Linked DNA regions of Homo sapiens. The protein of the gene in region 1 interacts with the protein of each later gene in a biochemical or structural test. Each region holds a gene or a part of one and is shown in the gene's direction. Other genes may lie near its edges.

The links. The genes of interacting proteins can lie anywhere in the genome.
Region 2: the proteins of FBXO22 (region 1) and SRR form a complex in vitro, tested with the Homo sapiens proteins (one study listed by BioGRID).

Annotation. Positions count from the first base shown.
Region 1 is NC_000015.10:75,913,822-75,917,572, forward strand, and holds part of FBXO22 (F-box only protein 22), read left to right. Parts: intron 1-288; coding exon 289-384; intron 385-3,408; coding exon 3,409-3,573; intron 3,574-3,751. UniProt on the Homo sapiens protein: Substrate-recognition component of the SCF (SKP1-CUL1-F-box protein)-type E3 ubiquitin ligase complex that is implicated in the control of various cellular processes such as cell cycle control, transcriptional regulation, DNA damage repair, and apoptosis.
Region 2 is NC_000017.11:2,307,712-2,311,462, forward strand, and holds part of SRR (serine racemase), read left to right. Parts: exon of another isoform or gene 1-2,279; intron 2,280-3,751. UniProt on the Homo sapiens protein: Catalyzes the synthesis of D-serine from L-serine. D-serine is a key coagonist with glutamate at NMDA receptors. Has dehydratase activity towards both L-serine and D-serine.

The DNA of each region.
Region 1 (3,751 bases):
AAGTCTAAAATTCAGCTGTTACTGCTAAATTTGACATCACTGGGGCAAAAGCAATATATGAACAGAGGGGAAAGGCAGACTAGTGGTGCAAAAGATCAGATTTATAATTTAAAAGCCAGGACCAAAACAGGTAAAGTGTTTGTTTTAATCAATGCTTTTAGACCTTTATTTAGAGCATTCTCGTGTTAAATGACTTAAATATTTCCAGTATTTGCTTTTTTACTTTTTCATTCTCAGATTTGACTTTAAATGGATGATATTTATCATTTTGCTACTGTATTTTTACAGCAAGGAAAAGAACTAGTATGGAAACAGCACTTGCCCTTGAGAAGCTATTCCCCAAACAATGCCAAGTCCTTGGGATTGTGACCCCAGGAATTGTAGGTGAGATAAATTAGCAACTTGATGATTTCTTCCTTGCATTAATGTGGGGTCCTTTGGATTGGTGAGTTATTTTTAGCTTAGAACCACATTTCTATTTCTGTCCATCTAAAATACAATAAAGTCAGTCATATTTACCATGGCATTATATTTGCCTTATATTAATGTTTATTAAGTTATTGTACTTCTCATCTCAAGGTTACCTGTATAAATATCCAGTAGTCATTCATAAGAGGGGAATGATCTCATTCTGCCTTCCTCCAAATTAGGAAGTATTTGTGGGCATTTTCAGAGTTTTGTCAGTTCAAGCAGTATTGTGTTTGGTGGGTAGGGGTGAGATGGGGCTGGGATTAGGAGCAAAGCTGGGCCTTACTAGGAGACTTCTGTTTCTCTGCTTTGGTACCACTCTTCAATGTTTACAGCATGAGGTTGTGCCCCTTTCCATGCTTGATTGCTGCTGGTGAATTTTTGCTGGTTTTTATTATTTTTGATTCTTTTCTGTAGTTAACTGGGGGAGGAGAGATTCTGTTGAGGCAGTAATGGTGCAATGGTTAGATACCTGGATTCGAATGCCGGCTGTACCGCTTAGTATCTGTATGACTTTGAGCAAGTTACCTAACTTCATGGGGCTTCACTGTCCTCATCAAGGAAGTGGGGATGATGACAGTAGTACCTTCCTTGGAGGGTTGTGAGAATTAAATGAGTTAACACTTGTAAAGCATTTACAATAGAGATACACAAAGCAGTAAGTAAATGTTAGCTGTCATTTATGTATTGTTTTTGAGATGGAGTTTCACTCTTGTCACCAAGGTTGGAGTGCAATGGCGTGATCTCTACTCACTGCGACTTCTGCCTCCTGGATTCAAGCAATTCTCCTGCCTCAGCCTCCCAAGTAGCTGGGATCACAGGCGCCCGCCACCACCACACCTGGCTAATTTTTGTATTTTTAGTAGAAACCGGGTTTCACCATGTTGGCCAGGCTGGTCTCAAATTCCTGACCTCAGGTGATCCACCGCCTCAGCCTCCCAAAGTGCTGGGATTACAGGCATGAGCCACTGCACCTGGCTGCTGTTATGTTTTTTTGTTCCAACTCAGTAGTACTCTACTGAGAATTGTCATTTTTAATCTTCACTGAAAGATTTTTGATCTGAATTTGAGTCTTATACAGTGAGGTAAAAAGAATTTTACATGTTTACAAATGAATATTATTTGTTCAGTTGCTCTAGCTGTGGTTTCTAAAGGGCTTAACATTTTTTTAAAAAAAAGAGTTTATTTCTTTTTGGCCTGGCGTGGTGGCTGACACCTGTAATCCCAGCACTTTAGGAGGCCGAGGCAGGCGGATCACTTGAAGTCAGGAGTTGGAGACCAGCCTGGCCAACATGGCAAAACCCCATCTCTACTAAAAAATGTAAAAATTGGCCAGGCGCAGTGGCTCACGTCTGTGGTCCCAGCACTTTGGGAGGCCGAGGTGGGTGGATCATGAGGTCAGGAGTTCAAGAGCAGCCTGGCCGACGTGGTGAAACCCCATCTCTACTAAAAATACAAAAATTAGCCAGGCATGATGGCGGGCACCTGTAATCCCAGCTGCTCAGGAGGCTAAGGCAGGAGAATTGCTTGAGCCCGGGAGGCAGAGGTTGCAGTGAGCCGAGATCACGCCATTGCACTCCATCCTGGATGATAGAGCAAGACTCTGTCTCAAAAAAAAAAAAAAAGCTAAAATTAGCTGGGCATGGTGGCTCATGCCTGTAATTCCAGCTACTTGGGAGGCTGAGGCAGGAGAATTGCTGGAAACCGGGAGGCAGAGGTTGCACCACTTCGCTCCAGCCTGGGTGACAGAGTAAGACTCTGTCTCCAAAAAAAAAAAAAAAAAAAAAAAAGTTTATTTCTTTTTTTATACTAGTAATAGTTATTTTTAGAAAAAAAAAATTAGAAGATTCAGATAAGCAAAAGCACCTTTAAGCACCACAGAGTTAACCACTCTTATGATGTTAACCTCTATTTATATATGTATGTAAATATAAAAAACCAGAATACAATTTTCTGTAGACTTGTAACCTACTGTGTTAGTCTACTAGGGCTACCATAACAAAATACCACAGACTGGGTGACTTAAACAACGGAAGCTTATTTTCTCACAGTTTGGGAGGCTAGAAGTCCAAGATCGGGGATGGTCTCTCTGAAGCTTACTTACAGCTGCTCTCTCACTGTGTTCTCATGTGGCCTTTTCTTCATACATAAGCATGCTTGGTGTCTCTTCCTCCTCTTCTCAGGACACTAGTCCTGTTGGATTAGGGTCCTACCCTTGTGACCTCATTTAATCTTAACTATCTCTTTAAAGGCCTTATCTCCAAATATAGTCACATGGGGGGTTAGGGCTTAAACATGAATTTGGGGTAGGCAGTAGGGAGGGAATGACACAGTTCAATCTGTAATATCTACCTGTAAAATTCAGAGCATATTACAAACATATTTCCATGTCTATAAATATATATTTGTCATCATTTTAATGGCTATATTCTATGATACCAATGTAACTTTTAATCTGAATACCAGTGTGGGACATTCAGGTTTTTTCTTTTTATTTTCTATTTGAAATTATGTGATAAAATACTTGGGTATATATATACTTTATATAATTGTCAAATATTTTTAGGGTAAACTTTTAAAAATTGGAATTGCTGTGAAAGTGTATTTACTACCCCCCCAACTTTTTAATTTGAAAAATATGGAGAAGTTGAAAGAATAATAGAACAGCATGATAAATACCCATATACCCTTTATCTAGTTTAGCAGTTGAAAAAATTTTGCAACATTTATTTTTTCTCACTTTGCTTATAAAAAATTTCTTTCTGAACCATTTGAAAGTTAAATGGCAAACATCATGACACTACACCCTAAAACTGTCAAAGCTGAAAAACTTTTACTCAGATAGTGGCTTGTTAGCTTAATGATTATCTTAGTGACCTAAACTGTAGTTATCTAGTTTTTACTGACTCTATTGGTGAAACTGTTTAACTTTTTCTCTAGTGACTCCAATGGGATCAGGTAGCAATCGACCTCAGGAAATAGAAATTGGAGAATCTGGTTTTGCTTTATTATTCCCTCAAATTGAAGGAATAAAAATACAACCCTTTCATTTTATTAAGGATCCAAAGAATTTAACATTAGAAAGACATCAACTCACTGAAGTAGGTAAGTTACTTTTATTTATCATTAACTGCTCATTTTATTGATTAATTTTGTTTTCTTTTTAATTCTGGCTAGTTGGTGGATATTAGGTTCCTTTGGGAGAATCTGAATTAAGTACACCTGTCACTGGAGATGTGGCTAATTCAAACAGGTGATTCACAGAGGCCAGTGTGATACATGT
Region 2 (3,751 bases), on another chromosome or scaffold:
ATTTTAATTAGGCAACAAAGCTTAGCATGAGAGGAGAGCCAGCGAAGTGACAGGGAAGCTACAGGTTACAACAGATTTGTGAACTAAGCCAAGCACAGTGGTGGCAGGGCCTAGCTGCTACAAAGAAGATATGTTTTAGACAAATACTCATGTGTATGGGCAAAAAACTCGAAGACTGTATTTGTGACTAGTTGTATAACAGGTTGTTTTAGTTTCTGTTCTGTGGAAAGTGTAAAGCATTCCAACAAAGGGTTTTAATGTATTTTTTTTTTTTGCACCCAAGCTGTTGATTGCTAAATGTAATAGTCTGATCGTGACACTGAATAAATGTCTTTTTAAAAAAAAAAAACAACAAAAAAACCACCAATTTTAAATAATTCATGGGTCAAAAAAGAAAACAAGACTAAAATCTTGGATTATTTAGAAATTATAATAATGAAAATATTGCATAATGGAATCCATGATATTAAAGCACTTCTCAGAGGAAAAATCCTATAAGTAACCTTATATGCTTTCTTTTTAAAGTGAAAATTAGTAAGCTAAGCATTCAACAAATATAGAAGACAATTAAAGGAAAATGGCAGAGTAAACAATCAGAAATAAGGGAAAAAGAGCTGTACTTTAAATAGATTGAAAAGCTCATTCTTCAGAAATAAAGCAGATACTAATATACACACATTTCTGGCAAAAAATAATTTTTAAAAAAGGGACATCCTCTTGGATGTTTCATAAACAATTCAAACTTAGCTAATCAAATCTGATTTTCCTGTCAAATACTTATTTCTTCTCCTGTTTTAAATCTCAACAAATTGTACCACCATTTAAGTCAAAACCCAGGAGTTACTCTTTTTAAAGAAAAATTTTTGGCTGGGCACGGTGGCTCACACCTGTAATCCCAGTACTTTGGGAGGCCGAGGTGGGTGGATCACAAGGTCAAGAGATCAAGACTATCCTGGCCAATTAGCTGGGCATGGTGGCACGCTCCTGTAATCTCAGCTACTTGGGAGGCTGAGGTAGGAGAATCACTTGAACCCAAGAGGCAGAGGTTGCAGTGAGCCAAGATCGCACCACTGCACTCCAGCCTGGTGACAGAGTGAGACTCCATCTCAAAAAAATAAAAATATTGGCCGGGTGTGGTGGCTCATACCTGTAATCCCAGCACTTTGGGAGGCTGAGGCAGGTGGATCATCTGAGGTCAGGAGTTCGAGACCAGCCTGACCAACATGGTGAAACCCTGTCCCTACTAAATACAAAACATTAGCCAGGTGTGGTGCTACATGCCTGTAATCCCAGCTACTTGGGAGGCTGAGGCAGGAGAATCGCTTGAATCCGGGAGGCGGAGGTTGCAGTGAGCTGAGATTGCCCCATTGCACTCCAGCCTGGGCAACAAGAGCGAAACTCCATCTCAAAATAATAATAATAATAATAATTTGTAGAGGCAGGGTTTCCCTGTGTTGCCCAGGCTGGTCTCAAACTCCTTGCCTCTGGCAATCTTCCCACCTTGGCCTTCCAAAGTGTTGGGATTACAGGTGTGAGCCACCAGGCCTGGCCCAGGATTTATTCTTCACACTTCTCTCCCCCATTCAATCCACTATCAGGATATGTCTCTTCTGTTCCTATAATGAACATGTATGGAATCATCTCCCCAGCATTCTCCCCTTTATTTTCACTTGGAAAATGCCCCTTACTCCCACTCAAAAGTACTTTTTTCTTTTCTTTGTTTTCTTTCCTGTGTCACTCCTTTATTTTGCTATTTTCCCCTCAGGTGCAGAGAATTGAGCCAGTCATACTCGTTTATTCACACTGTCATTAACAAGCCCTTTCTCATTTTATCTTTTCTCTTCATTCCAGTTCCCACTAATGTTCCTTTCCTCCCTCCTTAGGTATTCACTCTAATGTGTTTGATATATGTCTTTGAATATACATGTATCTTTGAATAATATGTAATGTTTTATGTATGTATGTGTTTTAAATGTACCTAATTGATACTGTGTTACAGATCTCATTCTGTTTCTTTTTCATGTTTATGTAAATACTTCTGACTATTGCACACTGTTATCTTCAGTGACCTCATACCCTGGCCACTGGTCCTGGGCCAAGATGGGCCAGAGTCCTTACCCAGAATTTTTTTAACTGAAACTGAGAAAGAAAATTCCCCTTCAGTGTGGAAGCCATAAAATGTAAAACATACGAGCTGTCAGCAGCCACGTGTCAGTTGGTTCCATATGGAACCAACTCGCCTGTGTGAAAAAGAAGCCGACGTGCAGAAAGCAGCAGAGGTGAGAGACTAAGAGTCTGGGAAGCTGTCAAATCTCTGGTTCCAGTAGTTCCTGAAGCTCCATATTCCTCCCCTTACCATGGTTTGTTCATTTCTTCATGGATTCCATGAGCTAGTAAATCTCAACACCTCCACCTTGTGCCTACTAAGGTAGTACAAATTGAGGTTCTATCACTTGCAACTAAGAGGACTAACTGTTTACAACCTCCAAAATATATCTTATTTTTGATAGTGGGTTTTTTGTATTCTGGGTTTTGTTGTTGAGAGACAGGGTCTACATGTAGGAATGGAATCGGTAGATCATAGGATGATTCTATGTTCAATTTTTTGAGGAAGCACCATACTGTTTACTGTAGAATTACCACTACAGGCGCCTGCCACCTGCACGGCTAATTTTTGTATTTTTGGTAGAGATAGGGTTTCAACGTGTTGCCCAGGCTGGTCTTAAATTCCTGAGCTCAAGCAGTCCGCCCACCTAAAGTGCTGGGATTACAGGTATGAGCCACTGCATCCTGCCAAGGGGGCATAATTGACATTTATTCATAAAAATATTGAGACTTCAGGCCTGGCATGGTTTTTTGGGATTTTTGGTTGTTGTTTTTTTTTTGAGACAGAGTCTCACTCTGTCGCCCAGGCTGGAGTGCAGTGGAACATTCTCGGCTTACTGCAACCTTTGCCTTCCAGGTTCAAGCGATTTTTCTGCCTCAGCCTCCCTAGTAGCTGGGACTACAGGCAAATGCCACTACTCCTGGCTAATTTTTTTGTTTGTTTGTTTGAGACAGAGTCTTGCTCTGTCACCCAGGCTGGAGTGCAGTGGCATGATCTTGGCTCACTGCAAACTCCGCCTCCCGGGTTCATGCCATTCTCCTGCCTCAGCCTCCCGAGTAGCTGGGACTACAGGTGCCCGCCACCATGCCCGGCTAATTTTTTGTATTTTTAGTAGAGACAGGGTTTCACCATGTTAGCCAGGATGGTCTCGATCTCCTGACCTTGTGATCTTCCCACCTCAGCCTCCCAAAGTGCTGGGATTACAGGCGTGACCCACCACGCCCGGCCAATTTTTGTTTTTTTAATGGAGACGGGATTTTACTATGTTAGTCAGTCTGGTCTCAAACTCCTGAACTCCTGATCTCAAGTGATCCACTTGCTTTGGCCTCCAAAAGTGCTGGGATTACAGGCAAGAGCCACCACGCCCAGCCAACTATTTTTTGTTCTCTTGTTTTTTTGTTTTTAAGAGACAGGGTCTTGCTCTTGCAGTGGTACAATAACTCACTGCAGCCTTGAACTCCTGGGTTTAAGCAATCCTCCTGCCACTGTGCCCAGCCGAGGGGGCATAATTGACATTAAAAAATATTGAGTTTTCGGGCCCGTCATGGTGGCTCACGCCTGTAATCCCAGCACTTTGGGAGGCCAAGGTGGGTGGATCACTTGAGCTCAGAAGGTCAAGACCAGCCTGGGCAACATGGCAAAACC